Linked DNA regions of Homo sapiens. The protein of the gene in region 1 purifies or fractionates together with the protein of each later gene. This does not show direct contact. Each region holds a gene or a part of one and is shown in the gene's direction. Other genes may lie near its edges.

Region 1 (4,876 bases):
CTTGGCCTCCCAAGTAGCTGGGATTACAGACGTACACCACTGCATCTGGCTAATTTTTGTAGTTTTAGTAGAGATGGGGTTTCGCCTTGTTGGGCAGGCTGGTTTCAAACTGCTGACTTCAAGTGATCCGCCCTTCTCGGCCTCCCAAAGTGCTGGGATTACAGGCGTGAGCTAACGCGCCCGTCCTGTTTTTTTCTTTGGGCAGGATCTTGTTCCATTTCTCAGGCTGCAGTGCAGTGGTGTGATCATGGCTCGCTACAGCCTCCACCTCTTGGGCTCAAGCGATCCTTCCACCTCAGCCTCCTAAGTAGCTGGGACCACAGATGTGCATCACCATGCCAGCTAAGCTGTTAAAGTTTTGTAGAGACGGAGGCCTCCGTATGTTGTCTAGGCTGGTCTCAAACTGGCCTCAAGCAATCCTCCCGCCTCAGCCTCCCAAAATGTTGGGATTCTGGGTGTGAGCACCACACCTAGCAACATTTTTATTGTATTGTATTGTATTTATTGTATTGTATTGTATTTTTTGAGATGTGGTCTCACACTGTTGCCCAGGCTGGACTGCAGTGGCATGATATTAACTCACTGTAGTCTTTGCAGCCTTGAGAGAACTTTAAAAAAAAAAAAAACTTGCTAGCCTTGAACTCCTGGGCTCAGTCAATCTTCTTGCCTCAGCCTCCTGAGTAGCTAGGACTACAGGTGTGCACCATCATGCCTGGCTAATTTTTTATTTTTTGTGGAGGCAGGGTCTCAATATGTTACTCAGCCTGATCTCAAACTCCTAAGCTCAAGCAATTCTCCTCCCTTGGCCTCCCGAAGTGCTGGGATTATAAGCATGAACCACCATACCATGCCCAGCCTAAAAATAGTTTTAGAAGATGTGAGGAACACTTCCTTCAGTTATCACCTATAATAAAGTGCCTATTTAAGGAAAAGCCCTAAGGGATAGTATAGAAATCTTGTTGGCCAGGATGGTCTCGAACTCCTGGCCTCAAGCAGTTCTCCTGCTTGATTTATAGTTTTTTTGAGAGCATTTTGTTGTTGTTGTTTCCTTTCTTCCATGTAATGCTTTATAATGTCGTTTTCTGCTTTTGGTAACATGTTAATGCTGACCTCACAATGAATTGAGAAGTATTTCTTCCTCTTCTGTTTTCTGCAGTAGTGTCTGTAGAATTGTTGTTATTTCTTCCTTAATGTTTGATGACATTTACCAGTGAAGCTACATGGGCCTAGAGTTTTTTTTTGGTGGAAAATTTTAAACTACAAATTCAATCTTATCGGTAGATACGTGACTACTTGGTATCTGTTTCTTCTTGGATAAGCTTTAGCAAGTTGTATCTTTCTAGGGATTTGTTCATTTTACTATATTGTCAGAGTTCATTATAGTCCCTCGTGATGCCATGAATGAATGTAGAGATTGTAGTTGTCCCCTCTCTTAATTCTGTTTTTGGGAATTTGTGGCTTCCCTTTTTTCCCCCGACTGTCTGGCCAGAGGCTTAGTAGTTTTATTGATCTTACGGAACCAGCTGGGGTGTGGCATGTGCCTATAGTCCCATCTGCTTGGCAGGAATATTGCTTGAGCCCAGGAGTTCAGGAATGTAGTGTGCTATGATCATACCTGTGAGTAGTCACTGCACTCCAGTCTTTGGGCAACAGTAAGACTCTGTCTCTTAAGAAACAAAAAACAAAACAAAACAAAAAACTGCTCTTGGGATTTTGGTGGGTTTTTTTTGTTTTTCTCTATTGTATTTGCTTTCTAGGTCATTTATTAATTTGTGTTTTCTTTGAGCTTAATTTTATTTTCTTTTCCTGGATGTATACTCTTTTTTTTTTTTTTTTTAAGGTGGGGAAGCTTAGGTCATTAATTTGATACCTTTCTCTCTTCTAATATAAGCATTTAATTCTATAATTTTTCGATAAGAATTGCTATTGCTCAATACTATTTTCTAGCTACAAGAGAAATTAGTAAAATGAATTTTTTAGTTGAACACGTTTTATAAACTTAAATAGGGTTATATAAGTAAGGAAATCAGAGGAGAATGAAATTCAATAGGAGCCTGACAGTGTCTGCCATGGCCACAATTTTTAAAATCGAGCTACATGCTATATGTGCAATGTCATTGCTATAAATTTACAATCCACCTAAGCCATTGCATGTCACATAGACACCTCTACTTGCTTTTTAGGGGTGGTAAGTTCGCCTGAAGTTTACTTTAAAATTTTCCTTTGGCCGGGTGTGGTGGTGTGTGCCTGTAATCCCAGCTACTTGGGAGGCTGAGGTGGGAGGATTGCTTGAGCCTGGCAGGTGGAGATAGTAGTGAGCTGAGATTGTGCCACTGCACTTCAGCCTGGGTGACAGAGTAGAACCTCTCTCAAAAAAAAAAAACAACCAGCAAAAAAATGTTTTTCCCTTTAATTTTTTGCTACATGATTGCCTGATAGTAAAAGCCAAAATGTGGTTTCTTTAGTTTTTTATTAGCAACTCACACTTTTTTTTTTTACCTATTTATTATGGAAAATTTTAAGCATATTCAAAAGTTGAAGTAGTTTATTGAGCCTCTTTGTTAGCTAATTTCGGTAATTATCAGCAGATGGCCAGTCTTCTTTCCTCTGTATCCCATCACATCTGAATTATTTTGAAGCTAATCTCAGAATTCATTGTTTCATTAATTAATACTCTGGCATATATATTTAAAAGATAAAGCCTTTTTTATTTTTAAAAATACTATCACAATGTCATTATTATACCCTTAAAAATGAGCAGTAATTCTGTAATATCCTGAAATATCCAGTGTTCAATTTTAGATTATCTTACGATTTCTTTCCTCTATAGTATGTTTGAGTCAGGAGCTAAGTAAGTTCCACTCAAACAACGTATTTTGTGATTCATTAAGTTTAGTAAAATCTGTGGCATTAGAACTTTACCAAGGGAAAAACTGTAGAAGTTTGCATTTCTTGTTATCATAATGAAAACCTTCATTGTAATTAATGGAATTACTAGTTGAAGAATGCAGTGGTGAACAAAGTAAACATTTGTCTCTATGTTTTAGTCATTTTAAAGAATGGTGTTTTGACTTTATAGTTAAAACTTTTAATTCTTGTCTTTCTCTAGGCAGGTAATAGATAAACTTTTCTTGATTTTGTTCGTTTTGATTTTTTTTTTTTTTTGAGATGGAGTCTCGCTCTGTCACCAGGCTGGGGTGCAGTGGCGCAATCTCTGGCAACTTCTGCCTCCCGGGTTCAAGTGATTTTCCTGCCTCAGCCTCCTGAGTAGCTGCGACTACAGGCGCGCACCACCATGCCCAGCTGATGTTTGCATTTTTAGTGGAGATGGGGTTTCGCCATGTTGGCCAGGCTGGTCTCGAACTCCTGACCTCAGGTGATCTGCCCGCCTCAAGCCTCCCAAAGTGCAGGTGTGAGCCACTGTGCCTGGCCTGTTTTGCTTTGTTATCATTTGTGTGTTCACTGGAGTAGCACTTTTAATTTCCTTCAAGAACTTTTCCTTGCATTCATAGCTTGGCTGTTTGGTGCAAGAGGCCTAGCTTTGTGTCTGTCTCAGCTTTCCACATGCCTTTCTCACTAAGCTTAATCATTTTTAGTAGAGGCGGGGTTTCACCATGTTGGCCAGGATGGTCTCGATCTTTTGACCTCTTGATCCACCCACCTGGGCCTCCCAAAGTGCTGGGATTACAGGCATGAGCCACCCGGCCTGGCCTTCATTTTGATATTTAAAAAAATGCGTATGCTTACTTGAATCCAGAAGTGCAAGACCAGCCTGGGGAACTTAGACCCTGTCTCTTAAAAAAAGAAAGAAAAAAAAATATGTGTATATATATATTTATGTATGTATGTATGTATGTATGTATGTATGTATGTATGTATGTATGTGCCAGGTGCGGTGTCTCACGCCTGTAATCCCAGCACTTTGGGAGGCCGAGGTCAGGAGTTTGAGACCAGCCTGGCCAATGTGGTGAAACCCCATCTCTATTAAAAATACAAAAAAATAAATAAATAAAAATTAGCTGGGCGTGGTGGCGGGCGCTTGTAATCCCAGCTACTTGGGAGGCTGAGGCAGGAGAATCGCTTGAACCTGGGAAGGCTGAGGTTGCAGTGAGCCGAGTTCGTGCCACTGCACTCCAGCCTGGGCAACAAGAGTGAGACTCCATCTCAAAAACAAAACAAAACAAAACAACAAAAACGTGTGTGTGTGTATATACACACACATATATATATCTCCATTCCAATTTGGCTGTGTAAGACACAGTCCTTGCTCTTAAAGTAGAAGGGATACAGTCAGCAGAACATAATAATGAATGGCAAGCTATTATATTTCTTATGCCGTTTGACTTGTTTTTTGGTTTAACTTGTTCTTTTTCCTGTGTTTTATGACTCCATCTCACAGGAGAGCCTTATAGATGCAAGTGAAGACAGCCAGCTAGAAGCTGCCATCAGAGCCTCCTTACAAGAAACACATTTTGATTCAACACAGACAAAACAGGATAGCCGCTCAGATGAAGAATCTGAATCTGAACTTTTTTCTGGCAGTGAGGAGTTCATATCCGTTTGTGGCTCTGATGAAGAAGAAGAGGTAGAGAATCTTGCCAAGTCCAGAAAGTCTCCCCACAAAGATTTGGGGCATAGAAAAGAGGAGAATAGAAGGCCGCTGACTGAGCCACCAGTCAGAACTGATCCTGGAACAGCCACAAACCACCAAGGATTGCCAGCTGTGGATTCAGAGATACTGGAGATGCCACCTGAAAAAGCAGATGGAGTAGTGGAGGGGATAGATGTAAATGGTAAGTTACATTTAGACATACTTTACTTCAAACTTAGATATTGGGGCCGGGCGTGGTGGATCACTGAGGTTAGGAGTTCCAAG
Region 2 (4,292 bases), on another chromosome or scaffold:
CAACAATTTCACAACCTATGTTTACAGATTCTTCATAAATACATGCATACTGACACTATAATCATGGGAGGTGTAACCATGATTAGTAGGCGAGGTACCTACCACTTTTTTTTTTTTCTTCCCCTGGCTACTTGAGTAGAATGCATTATACCAGATCTGGTCACTTTCATTGAAATGGTTTCTAATTTTCTTCCCAAGTGCTGTTGGGTTTTTTTCTTCTTAAGGAAAACGTTGTCACTTTTATGTTATAAACTTGAATTTATAAAGTGCTGGTAAATTATTTTTAATGATTTGAGTGCATGTTTTAAACCTCTAGGACCAGAGCATAGTCAGAGCATTTTCTTTTAAATTGTGCACTAACAAAATGCTATATAATCTGTCTTCTGTCCAAGATCTCCTGGTTTCCATTGTAAGGGATTTAACCAAAATCTTGCTCTTCCATAATCTTACTCTGTGAAATAGAGGAATTCGTGTGCCTTAGATTTAGAAGTGTGTTCTTTAATAGAGTGTACAGGGCTAAAAGAGTATTTAAGTTAATATGTAGGTTTCCCCCATCTGTATTCCAATTGTAGAGGTGAGTTTTGTTAAGAGTACAATTGCAAATCTTATCTATATAGGAAAATAGCTAAATGTCATTCTCCATCTCTTTGTTTTAGTTTACTGCTTCCATGTGCAATCCTAAGCATTCTTTGCTGGGGCAACTAAATGTATCTTTATTAGTGACTTCTAGTCCAAATATAAGAAACTGTCATGTTTTGTGGGAAAATAATTTTATAATCCATTTAAAGTGAAAGTTTATCACACAAATAGTACACTTATTTTCTAACCAAATACTTGATAGGTTATGCTACTCCAGTGTAGATGGCCATTCCTAACTTGTTTGTGCCTGAAGATGGACTTGATTCAAATGGTTTACATATTTAGTGGGTAAGGGATATGTTACAGTACCCCACCTGTAAGTTATTTATTAGCCCTAATTGTGTTTGATTTCAGACAAAATTAACCCTTTTCTCCTGTGTATCTTTGAAGTGGCAGATAAGGTGAAGCATCAGACTGGTATCAATATTAGACAATGTTATTTATTAGCCCTAATTGTGTTTGGTTTCAGACAAAACCTTTTCTCCTGTGTATCTTTGAAGTGGCAGACAAGGCGAAGCATCAGACTGGTATTAATGTTAGAGAATGTTCTGAAGTGTTCCTATTTTGTAGTTATCTATTCCATTTGACATAGTAGAAGGTACATTTTCTTTCTACTCTGATGCATGGGGAAGGATGTTTTTGGACATTATCAACTGAGATAGGTGGGAAACCTCCTCTCATTTGTGGCTTAGAGAGCTATCACCATTTCAGAACTATGATGCTTTTCTTCTCAGAACTTGTGTTAAGTAGATAGTAAACAGATTGATTCATGATAATTGTCCTTGACTAAGACTGAAAAGACTAATGGGATGCCTTTTACTTTGCTAATTTTAAAAACTGGTGATAGATGTCAAATCCATTAATTTATTTAAACTCTTCTTAACCTTCTCTTTTATAATCTGTTCTCAGGTTTTAACTCCATGTTTACCATCATTTGCAAAAAGGTACCAAAAAAATCCATAAATAAATATGGAATACATTCATAAGTACATACATTCTTTTGGTATAAAACAATATTTTGACAGTTTAGGCTTCATTAATAGAACTATTCTGATTATTTGGACTGCATTAATTGGTCATTGACTGGCCATCCAATTACCATTTTTTCTTTCAGTCCAAAATAGTTAGACCCTTGCATACAGAAGTGGTATTTTGGTTTTTAATCAGATTTGGTTTCATCAGAAGCAGCAAGAATGGACCTGATGTCTTTAAAAGCATAGCCGACAATGGTAGCTTCTCAAGTTATGAAATAAAACTGAGAGATAATGGAGAAAATAATTTTTATGGGTTTTTTTGGTTATGGTGCTATTCCTAAGGTTAACTTTGAATATGTGACACACACACTCCTAAGTACCTTTAAGGAAAATTAATAAATCATTAATAGTTAAAATGTTTACATTGAGCACTAGAACATGTTTGGCCTTTTTTTTCTACGTTATGCAAAATGCCCAGGGATTTAATGCACAGGTGTACTTTAATGTTTAGGGTCAGTTTGTAGTATTCTTGAGAAAAAGATAAAGGGTTATAATTTGAATGTGAACTGATCCAGAAATAAGTGCTGTACCTTTCCACTGCACTTGAAGTTCAACTTAATGGTGTATGTGAAAAACAAAAACTACTTTGGTTGTGTATGTCCAAAGTCCTATGGTTTTATTCATTTATGGTTTTACAGGCTTTGAAGTACTCAGATTTGATTTTTGCTTTCTTGGAAAGACTCACTTTACCAAGCATATAAAGGAAAAATGATTTCAAACATTGACAAGATAGATGAGTGTTAACAAAGCTTTCTTTTTTCGTGTCCTCCTTATTTAAAAAGGTATACTTACAATGTGAAGTAACTTATGAATAAAAGGAAAAGTTTATCCCATATTCAAATAATTCCTAAGGTCAGCCTCCCTTTTTGTAAGTGGCAAATATCTGATTAAATCATTTCTCAGTTTATTAATCCTTGGAAACAATGATATAGCAGTTACTCACAGCTTGTAAATTACAACAGAAAGGTTCCTTTCAAATAGTAGAGCTGCACCTAAAGAGGAAATTGGGTTTATAAGAAAATGGAGGCAAAGAACTTAAGTTTTAAGAAAAAGCACTTCAAAACAGAAGGGCAAATGGAAAAGGGGAATATAAAACAAACCAATAAAAATACCATCTGAGGGTGTTACTGTCCAAAAGTAAAGAATAAGATGCATCACTAAGCCCTTTGCACTCGTTATGACCTCGTAAGTAAAAATTATCACTTAGAATAAGGGGTGCACACTACATTCCCTCTGTCTTCTAGACTTTTTTTTTTGTAGAAGAATCAGAAAACAATTTACTAACCTCCCTGTTTGATATTAAAAATAGGAAGAATTTTAATATTTTCTGTTAGTACAAGTTGAACTTGATTGTGCCAACTGAAACCCCAGAGGTTTGTATATCAGTAGAATGCAAGAACATTGTTAAAGGTGCTTACGATCTTTTTTGTTTTCCTTTCCACTCCATTGTATCAATTTTTTGAGTAACTTTTAAATGGCTAGAAAATGGTCTTTTTGCTTTGCCCTTTTAAAGCTGAAATAACCAGCTCCATTCTTTTCATGAATAGTAAGTTGATATATTTATTTATCAGGTATCTTGCAGTTGTCACCAAATACTGTAGTTTTCTTATGTTGTATGGAAATTATAGTTCAATTATTTTAATGTGATAGAGTGCAACAAGTCATTGTAGAACTTTTCACCTGTTAATGTTGAAGTTATACCTCTGAATTTCTGCTGTGGATATCAAGGAAATAATAAAGCAGAAACCCCAAGAAATTTGCAACTTAACAGTTTGAGACTGTCTCTTATCCTAGTATTTGGGAAGAGAAGGAATAAATTTGTCAAAACTAGGTGAGAAAATAGAGCATTGTGGGAAAAACTGAGTCCAACTAGATTAGCAAATGTTAATTCCTAGCTCAAACTGTGAATAGTAAGGATTGAAAAGTAAAGTATGTAATGCTAAGGGCTGTGTTGTCTTTTCTTACGATTTTAAGTTTTAAAGGCTGTTAAATTACAGAGATGTTGCCCAAGGATACATGGGGATTCTCAAAAGTAAGAGATTTTTACCTTTTTCATAATCTGCCAAGCTGGTTCCTAATATATTGTTAAATTGGTAGAAAAATATCTTTAAATTGGTGTCTGCTCAAGAATTGCTTTTCTAGATTTGATGGAGGGAGGGGGAGAGTCACATCATTTGGATTCTACCAATCTGCAGGCTCTATCTTTGGCAACATGTAAATAATTAGACTATACATCTGTTTCTCAAGTATGGCAAGACCAATAGTTTGAATTTAATTATCAATGCTATGGTATACTTTCTGGTCATATTTTAGTTATGTCAGTTTTAAGGTAAGTTTTTTCATTTATTAAAGCCCTTAAATGAGATTTTAGACTGCCAAAGAGAAGAGGCAGTCCAATTGACCTAACTGAAATGAGATGACCAGTATATAGAGCCTAGATGGACTGTAGCAGCTCTACCCCTTTGTTTTACAAGGTAAATCATTTTAAAAATTACCTTTTTTGATCAGTGGGTAAAAGTTAAAGGGATCTTTAATTTTTGATATATTCAAGTTAATTTTCTAAATGTGAATCAGTCCTTGGACTGCAACTATATATTCACCTACAAAATCCCAATCAAA
Region 3 (4,963 bases), on another chromosome or scaffold:
ATGGTGTGTAGATGCTGGGGAGGGCAGGAGGTTATTCCAGGGAATGACAAGTGCAATAAGGTGGCCTGGACAGGTGGTTAAAGTAGAGAGGAGGTGAAGGTTCCCGGAGTTGGGCAGGTGAAAGAATCATGAAACTGTGCCTGGAAATTCTTCCAAGATTAATTCATTAATTCATTTATTTCACACATTTGTTTTAAGTGTCTTGTACACGCCAAGCAGTGTTCTCGGCATTAGGTGAACCAGCTGGACAAGCCCCTGGTGCCATGGGGCTTACCTTCCAGCAGGGGGAGAACTACACAAACAAGGCCAGGTTAGCGGAGCATGCAGGCTCACAAGCCTGTAGGCACAATCCTGCAATGCCAAAACTTCTGAAAAGCATAAGGTTGTTTTTTCATACTTTGGAGCCCAAACTCAATAGATGACAAAACCTGACCTGAAGTAGTGTGAGGCTATTTATAGTCTTTATTCACACTTGGTGTGAATTTTCATACCTTTCACTTCAGAAATATTAATATTTCATTACGATGCTCCAGGCTTTTCTCAATAGTTATATAATATAGACTATACAAAAAGTTATGTTTGACTAGTTTTTTTAAAGAGTTATGTAATATAAATTACATGTCTTCCTTTCTCAAATTGAAAAAAACTCTGAATTCCACAGCACATCTGGCCCTAAGGTTGGAAAATGGATTACGGACATGCAAGTGCTATGAAGATAATTCAAATATGCAATGGGATAGTGTCTAGGTGGCTACAGTTTGAATATTTAGGGAGGACCCCTCTGGGAAGGTGATATTTAAGCTTAGTTCTGAATGAAAAAAAATAAAAGCAGTCATGCAAAGATCAGGGGAGAGCATTCCAAGCAGAGGGAGCAGCTAATGCAAAGATGAACACAAAGGAGGCCACTGTGGCTACAGCATATTGGGCCGGATGAAGAGTGCTATAAATTGATGGAAGCACTTCATGTAGATAGGAAAATTGTGAGACCGGTGTGCTAAATCCTTTGGTAAATACGGTGTAGTGATTATGAGTGTGGTGGCTGTCAACAACTAGAAGGCCTGGAGGGGAATCTTCCTGGGTGAGAAAGCAAGTGGGGGGAGATATTTCAGATAGAGAAAACATAAAGCAGTTCTGAGGCTGAAATGGTGGGCTAAGATTTATGGCCTGAAGACCTTGGTTTGAGGAAAAGTATAGAAGGAAGACAGATTAGATATCTGGGCTCAAGACTCTAATGACATAGCTTCTGGAAGCTGCCTGAAAGATGTTCTAGGATGACAAAGACCTGGGTCTTAAATAATAGTCTCTGGTTGAAGTCCAATCTGCAGTGTGTGATCTGGGCTTTTGGACTTAAATTAGACAAAGATAGAGGAGAGTAGCAAAGCCTGAACTGATGAAAGATGTTTTTGCCTCTTTAGGTTTGTGCTTCTCAGCAGCTGTCCTAGAATGTCTGTCTCCAAGCATCTCTCTTAGCGGCTTTCCACATTCATCTCTCTGTGATCCTACCTGGCATCTCTCTTCCTATCTCGGCCTCAACATATTTCTCTTTACATGGCTCTCTCTCTCTCTAACTCAGACTCCTCATCTTTGGATCTCCTTGTCTGAGTGTCCCAGAATCTGGTTCCGTCCATTCGTCTGTGTCTGTACTGTAATTCTCTTTCTCCACCTGGACTGTGCCCTCCTGGAAGGCATGAATCTTTTATTATTCCGCTGGGTATCCCAGGTGCCCCGCACACCGTCTAGCATATAGGAGTCTCAAATACATTCATACTTGAATTAAGACTTTTTCAGAGGAGAAAGGCATCCGTTCTCAATATCCACCCCTCTTCCCCCACGCGGAGCAGGCCACTTGCCAAAAGGCCAGCTAGAGAGTAGGGCGAGGGGTGTTGTGGTATTGTACTTCTGCTATTGGTCTCTTTCCCCAGTTGAAATAACTCTGGGGATACCTTAGCAGGCGGAATCCGCCCTCTGGCCAAAGGACTAGCGTACCAGGCCACGCCCCCACGTCTCATGCGGCAGCGGCAGACGCCCCGGCCCGTCGCATCCGCCCCTTCCGCCGCTTCGCCTCGGCCAATCAACGAGCGCCCGCGCCCCCATCCCCATCCCGTGGAGTGGCCGGCGACAAGATGGCAGCAGCGTGTCGGAGCGTGAAGGTAGAAGGTTCTTTGCCTCTGTTGCTTGCCTTCCTTTACGGGCCGGGACAGCGCGGCCGTGGAACTAGGAGAAAGAGATCGGTTTCGAGGGAAAGGGTCATGCTTATGTAGGCCTGGTATTGTGGCCGTTGGGCTCAAGAGGTGAAAGTCAGCACTCCGCGGCGCATCTGTCTGTCTGTCTGTCTGTCTATCTATCTATCTATCAATCATCTATCTATCTATCGTCACGGGACGGGCTGTCTGGGGATGAGATCCCTTCTGCCCCCGAGGTCCCAACGCTGAGGAGAAGCAGCACACCTAGTTTACCCGCAGGGGTGACCACGACCTCTCCCCTCCCCCCTTCTCCTCAGAAGCCTGGAGAACAGGCAGGCGACAGCGTGGGGATGGTCTGGGCAATGTAACAGCTGACCCTGACCATGTCCCTTTTGACAGGGCCTGGTGGCGGTAATAACCGGAGGAGCCTCGGGCCTGGGCCTGGCCACGGCGGAGCGACTTGTGGGGCAGGGAGCCTCTGCTGTGCTTCTGGACCTGCCCAACTCGGGTGGGGAGGCCCAAGCCAAGAAGTTAGGAAACAACTGCGTTTTCGCCCCAGCCGACGTAAGTGGGGTCACCTCTCCTCTCCCAGGGTGTGCATGAGGTCACCAACACCGGCCTGGGAACCTGTGGGGGTCCCTCCCATAAGGGTCTCCTCTATGGGGGCGGTAGACCCATCTCCTTGTCTCTTTTGGCCTGAGCCTTCAAGCACTGTGGGACCACCTGTGATAAGGATTCTCTAAAGCTGGGATTCACAACAATGAGGATGGGGATTGGACGTAACAATCTCCTGGAGGAGTTATGTATGGTTTGAAAATGCATTTTGTGCCTTGTAATTTTATATTTACAAAGTCAAAAAACTTGTTTTCATGAAACAAACTACAGAAAGTGAAACTTGATGAAATCATCTTAGCAGGTAAGGATACAAAAAAGCTAGTTTATCTTCCTATCAATAATTCTCACAAGAGGGTTATTTTTTATTTTTATTTTTGAGATGGAGTCTCGCTCTGTTGCCCAGGCTGGAGTGCAGTGGCACAATCTCAGCTCCTTGCAACCTCCATCTTCTGGGTTCAAGCGATTTTCCTGCCTCAACCTCCCAAGTAGCTGGGATTACAGGCACCTGCCACCACGCCCAGCTAATTTTTTTTTTTGTATTTTTAGAAGAGATGGGGTTTCACCATGTTGGCCGGGCTGGTCTTGAACTCCTGATCTCACGTGATCCGCCCGCCTCGGCCTCCCAAAGTGCTGGGATTACAGGTGTGAGCCACTGCACCCAGCCTCACAACAGGGTTGCATTAGTGCTCTGATCCACAGCAATTAAGAATCTTCAGGAGCATGTGAATTTATCAAGAAGGTATTGATTTGAAAAATGTTTTTGCAACACTGCTCTATATTACCTAATATTTTCACCTTTGACCTACTCTCTCAATTTTTTTTTTTGGGACAGAGTCTCACTGTTGCCCAGGCTGCAGTGCAATGGCACGATCTCAGCTCACTGCAACCTCTGCCTCCCGGGTTCAAGCGATTCTTCTGCCTCAGCCTTCCAAGTAGCTGGGATTACAGGCATGTGTCACTATGCCGGCTAATTTTGTATTTTTAGTAGAGACGGGTTTTCACCACGTTGGCCAGGCTGGTCTCAAACTCCTGATCTTAAGTGATCCACCAGCCTCGGCCTCCCAAAGTGCTGAGATTACAGGCATGAGCCACCGCACCCAGCCTATCTCTCAAGTTTTACAACCTTTCTCTTGGCCTCTCCCTTCTCACAAATCTCTTCTCACCCAAGGACTGGGCATGCCCTGCCCTGCCCTCCCTCAGGTTTAGTGGGAAGAGTGGGTGCTGGGAGATGAATACCTTCTCCACTTCTCTCTTTGAAGGTGACCTCTGAGAAGGATGTGCAAACAGCTCTGGCTCTAGCAAAAGGAAAGTTTGGCCGTGTGGATGTAGCTGTCAACTGTGCAGGCATCGCGGTGGCTAGCAAGACGTACAACTTAAAGAAGGGCCAGACCCATACCTTGGAAGACTTCCAGCGAGTTCTTGATGTAAGGCCTTGGAAGTTCTCCAGGGATAGTGGTAGTAAGAAGTATCTGGCTGTGGAGGACCCCAAAGTTTTTAGGGGACAAAGGCTTCTTCTGCCTCAGGTCCTATAGCATGTCTCCATCTGTCCTACAGGTGAATCTCATGGGCACCTTCAATGTGATCCGCCTGGTGGCTGGTGAGATGGGCCAGAATGAACCAGACCAGGGAGGCCAACGTGGGGTCATCATCAACACTGCCAGTGTGGCTGCCTTCGAGGGTCAGGTGTGTGGGCAGGGGTAAGACTTATGCCTCCTAAGTGACTTGTTGGGGCCCTCCCACCTATGACTTCTACTCTTTCTCCAGGTTGGACAAGCTGCATACTCTGCTTCCAAGGGGGGAATAGTGGGCATGACACTGCCCATTGCTCGGGATCTGGCTCCCATAGGTATCCGGGTGATGACCATTGCCCCAGGTAGACATATCCCCTCTCTCCATCATACCTGGGATTGGGTGGGATCCATGGACAGTTGAGAGGGGAAGGTATCCACCACCTAAGCAGCAGCAGCCTTTTATCTTTGGGCCCCAGAGAAGCACCAAGAAGTAGGGCTAAAGTAAGGAAGAACCAGGTAATCATGAAAGCAAGGGTGAGTCTCTGAATTTGGCTATATTGTTTAGGTCTGTTTGGCACCCCACTGCTGACCAGCCTCCCAGAGAAAGTGTGCAACTTCTTGGCCAGCCAAGTGCCCTTCCCTAGCCGACTGGGT
Region 4 (4,292 bases), on another chromosome or scaffold:
CTTCAGCCATATTTGCTCTTAACCACCTTTTTCCCCGTGAGTACAGCCCTAGTTTTCCTTAGCTCTAAATAAATCTGATTGCCCTTTATTGGTGTTTTTCATTCTTCGGATATTTTATTCTGGCCTCTTTGTATTCAAATAGTTTGTGTGCCTAATCTGTTCCTTGACTAATACTTTTCGTGCCTTTTGTGCTTTATGATGAACTTTGTATTTTCAATGCACTGTTTAGAGAATTTGTGGTGATTCTGCAACTCCTTTATATCTTAAAAAAAAAAGACTGTAACATTTTTCACTGCTCCTACTCCATAGGATTTTTACTTTTATTAGTGCAGAAATATGTGTGAGATAATCCTTTGCTATTAATTGGTCTCTTTTACTTTTACCTTTATACTGCCATTTATTTCTTCATGCTTCTTTATTTGTTAACCCCATTTCTTATTGTATATTATCTTCTACTAATAAATTTCTTACTATGTTACTGCACATTTCAAGTTCTGGTTTTCTGATTTTTATCTTTTTTTCACCTCAGCTAGTCTTTTATCAAATGTAGCAAATTGCAAGTTGACTTCTGCTCTTTTACTCATAAATCTATGTTCTTTTTCATCACAAAGTCATTCTTGGGAAAGCCTTTCAGTCTGAGGCTTAGTTTTTAAAGTGGATTCTTAGCTATTTTTTAAGTAGTTTGATCTTAAGATTGATTTCTTAAATGTATGCAAATCTGATTTAGTTATTTTCCCGTTGGTAGACCTATCATTCCATTTTCTGTGTTGTTTCTGGGATATATGTCTCTACTTATTAAAAGGTGACTTATTCAGACTTATTCAGAAGAGCATACATTAAACTATAAGGCCAGTGAAGGCAGGGGTTTTGTCCATTACTCTATCCTTATCTCCTAGGGAGGTCATAGTCCATAGGAGGCACTAAGTAAATCTTTGTTGAGTGAATTTAAGCTGTGTGTTCAGCAATGGTGAACAGCTATGTTGAATCACAGACTCCAGTGTCTCTTGTAACTGGTAATACAGAATTGTGAACAAAGTTATGAGAATTATAGGTAAAACTGGTGACCTTGGAGTACTTTCCTAGATGGAGCAGAATACGGGTTTTAGAGTTGTTTAAGCACTCTATTTGAATCATTTGGAACATGTAACATATAATGCTATAACTTAGCATTATTCAATTGCTAAAATTGTTAGTCTTAGTTGAAGTAATTTCTATCTCCATAGATGTAGTAAAATTGGGAACTCAACCAAGACTGAGGTTAATAACTTGTTTCGGTATTGCCTGGGCAAATTTTTGATTTACTACTTTTGAATAATGTCTTATATCTCTATTATATGATTATTAGAGTGAATGGCATAAAAGTGGTATTTTTGTTGCAAAATCTATTTTCTCTTGGTTTAGGTTCAGAGCACTGGTGAAGGAGAAGCACAGAGATATTTTGATCATGCACTTACTCTGAGAAACACAATACTGTTTCTGCGTCATAACAAAGATCTAGTTGCGCAAACTGCACAGCCAGACCAACCCAATTATGGTATGATAAATATATTTAATTTTGAAGACATGATCATATGAAACTTTTTTCTAAGAAATTAAACAGATCATGCTCACTTATATAATCATCACTTACGTATTTTGTGTAGATAGCATATTGAATTTATAACTAGAGGCCTGTTTTGTGAATTTCTTGCTTGTTAACTGTTTCTTAACCTTATTTTACTTTTCTCATGTGCCACTAACATTTGTAGTATTTAAATCTGTTCAATACCTGCAAAAGTGTTGGTGTTAATTTATTTAAGTAGCTGGATGGAATTTAGAACAGGCATCAGCTCTGAGGGGTGAACAAGGGCAAAATTTTAGTTAATGTAGGAAGCATAAAATTTCAAGAATGAAAGATTCCATCATAATGAAAAGAATAAAGAGGAGCCTTCTGTTCAAATGCTACTGCAATACTTACCAAAAGATTTTACTTTTAAAAAGGAAATAGATAATTCTTTTTAAAGAGTAAAAGAAGTAGCAGCAATTTTAAGGTATTGATGAACTTTAATGGAGCTGTTGCCCTACTGGGCACTCTCAGTTTTGTGATAGTTGGGGGTTCCCAAACTTTAGTTGAATTGATGGTGTCAGAATTTCTACCCAGATGGGGATTTGGATTCAGTAGGTTTTGAGGTGTGGCATGGCACTCAGGAATGTGTGTTTTTTAAAAGATGATTCCAGTGCTCAGCTAGGCTTGGGCACCCCTGCATGAGCACTTGGCTCAAGTTCTTAGACATTCACAAGAGTTGTGTCTTGGGGCTTCATGGGTCCTCAATACCACTATAACGTTTAATTTTGATTAGTTTCATTTACCTAAAAACTATTTTTTCTGGCCAAGAACATCAGTTTCTTAATCATCTCCATTTTCATTTATTCTCTCACTAGCATCTGGCTTTCTTTTCAGCTCAATTTTAAAAATTGAGGGAGGATTCAGCTGTTACTTAACAAGCTGTCACATAGGTGAGAACAAACATGCTGGGTAGTTTACTTGAGTGAGGCTAGACTCACTTGGTATCAAGTGATTCACTTCTGCAGCCTTAATATGCCTTATCTGAAGAATTACAGATTGTTACATACTGGGGCTTTTGAGATCATTCATAAATAGTTAAAACTGAGAATATTAAATTGCCAAATGCCGAGAGTCCTAAGCACTTACTGGTAGGCATTTGTTGATGGATAACCATTTTTGGTTAATAAATACTAAATCATGTGATAAAGCAGTGGTGAGTGGCACAGTCTTGAGGATGTCTTTGGATATAAAACTCCTGGAATTTCTGGGACTTTTTAGTGATTTATGGAGATAATGTATTAGATGATTTGAAATACTCTGTTAAAGCTGTCTTGAAATACATTGTCCTTTCCTGCCTATCACAGAATGTGAGAACATTAGAGAGTACTAGTGACCAGTGAAGTGTAACTCCTATTATAGATAAAGAAATTGGAGTTTATATTAGCTAAATCTTCTGCTTGTTTTTTAGTCATCAAAGCCCATATTATTAGTAAATGGAAGAGCCAGGAATGGAAGACTTGAATCTGTGTCTGTTGATTTTTTTTTTTCCATTGCCCTGTCCCTATATTATCTTCTCTTGAACGCTAAGCTTTGTATTCATTTACCCATAAACATTTGTTGCTTAGTAGTCTGGGCTGGGCTAAATTTTTTCCCCATGAATAGTCAGTGTACCATGAAGTAAGTTAAATGGTAAATCTAAACCTATTCTCTATGAAAATAGTCCTGTGCAATCCTAACCTTTAAGGTGGGTTTAATGTTAGACTGTTCCTGACCCTAGTTGGAGATTTAATTGCTTAGAATAATTGCTGGGTCTCCAAAGTTAAATTTGATGAATGCCTCCCCTTAAGACCAAACCTGCAATTACTTATGAAATTTCATTTTTGCTACCAGCATTTCTTAGCTTAGCTCCTCATCTGAATTGCAGAACATGGAAATGATTGGCGTGACTATTTCTCAGTTTTTCTAATGATGGTGCACATTAGTACCGTTCTCAATGCATGAAAAAGGTCATTCGTTCTATGTAGAGGATATCTTAGGGCATTAAGGCTTCATGCTCAGCCTGTTGAGAAATGTTGCTTTCTGCAGTTACTGGGCTTGGTAACTGAACCTTACTCTTTTTTAGAAAAGAAATTCTCTGCCGGGTGTGGTGGCTCATGCCTGTATTCCCAGCACTTTGGGAGCTCGAGGCAGGCGGTTCACTTGAGGTCAGGAGTTCAACACCAGCATGGCCAACATGGTGAAAACTCGTGTTTACTAAAGATATAAAAATTAGCCAAGTGTGGTGGCAGGCACCTGTAATCTTAGCTGCTCGGGAGGCTGAGGCAGGAGAATTGCTTGAACCTGGGAGGCTGAGGTTGCAGTGAGCTGAAATGACACCACTGCACTCCAGCCTGGGTGACAGACTGAGACTCCGTCTCAGAAGAAAAAAAAGAAATCCTCTAGTATTGGTGTTTTAAGCGTCTTGTTTGAGGAAAAAGAATTTTCTTTTTATGTCACTAATAATTTATACTTTGAGTATATCATGTAGTACTTGTTATCTACTATAAAGCAAAAGCATTGTGATATTATACAAGCAAACTCTGTTATACATGGAACTAGTGTCTTAGTCCTAGGAGTCCTTAATCCCTTGGTTTTAAATAGCACGGCGTACTGTTTATAAATAAAAGTCATGCGTGGTCTGTTTTTTTCTCGTTTTCTAAGCATGATTTTTTTCCCCCAGGTATCTTTGTCTTTAAAAGGACATTGT

Evidence for each region.
Region 2: the proteins of UBXN7 (region 1) and BRWD1 purify together in Homo sapiens (affinity purification with mass spectrometry; 2 studies listed by BioGRID and IntAct, with this or other methods). This does not show direct contact.
Region 3: the proteins of UBXN7 (region 1) and HSD17B10 purify together in Homo sapiens (affinity purification with mass spectrometry, with the first as the bait; one study listed by BioGRID). This does not show direct contact.
Region 4: the proteins of UBXN7 (region 1) and FAM91A1 purify together in Homo sapiens (affinity purification with mass spectrometry, with the first as the bait; 2 studies listed by BioGRID). This does not show direct contact.

Annotation. Positions count from the first base shown.
Region 1 is NC_000003.12:196,362,211-196,367,086, reverse strand, and holds part of UBXN7 (UBX domain-containing protein 7), read left to right. Parts: intron 1-4,399; coding exon 4,400-4,793; intron 4,794-4,876. UniProt on the Homo sapiens protein: Ubiquitin-binding adapter that links a subset of NEDD8-associated cullin ring ligases (CRLs) to the segregase VCP/p97, to regulate turnover of their ubiquitination substrates.
Region 2 is NC_000021.9:39,191,568-39,195,859, reverse strand, and holds part of BRWD1 (bromodomain and WD repeat-containing protein 1), read left to right. Parts: 3' UTR 1-4,292. UniProt on the Homo sapiens protein: May be a transcriptional activator. May be involved in chromatin remodeling. Plays a role in the regulation of cell morphology and cytoskeletal organization. Required in the control of cell shape.
Region 3 is NC_000023.11:53,431,506-53,436,468, reverse strand, and holds the start of HSD17B10 (3-hydroxyacyl-CoA dehydrogenase type-2), read left to right. Parts: upstream 1-2,098; 5' UTR 2,099-2,123; coding exon 2,124-2,150; intron 2,151-2,582; coding exon 2,583-2,747; intron 2,748-4,057; coding exon 4,058-4,222; intron 4,223-4,352; coding exon 4,353-4,481; intron 4,482-4,562; coding exon 4,563-4,671; intron 4,672-4,874; coding exon 4,875-4,963. UniProt on the Homo sapiens protein: Mitochondrial dehydrogenase involved in pathways of fatty acid, branched-chain amino acid and steroid metabolism. Acts as (S)-3-hydroxyacyl-CoA dehydrogenase in mitochondrial fatty acid beta-oxidation, a major degradation pathway of fatty acids.
Region 4 is NC_000008.11:123,788,212-123,792,503, forward strand, and holds part of FAM91A1 (protein FAM91A1), read left to right. Parts: coding exon of another isoform or gene 1-22; exon of another isoform or gene 23-36; intron 37-1,401; coding exon 1,402-1,534; intron 1,535-4,292. UniProt on the Homo sapiens protein: As component of the WDR11 complex acts together with TBC1D23 to facilitate the golgin-mediated capture of vesicles generated using AP-1.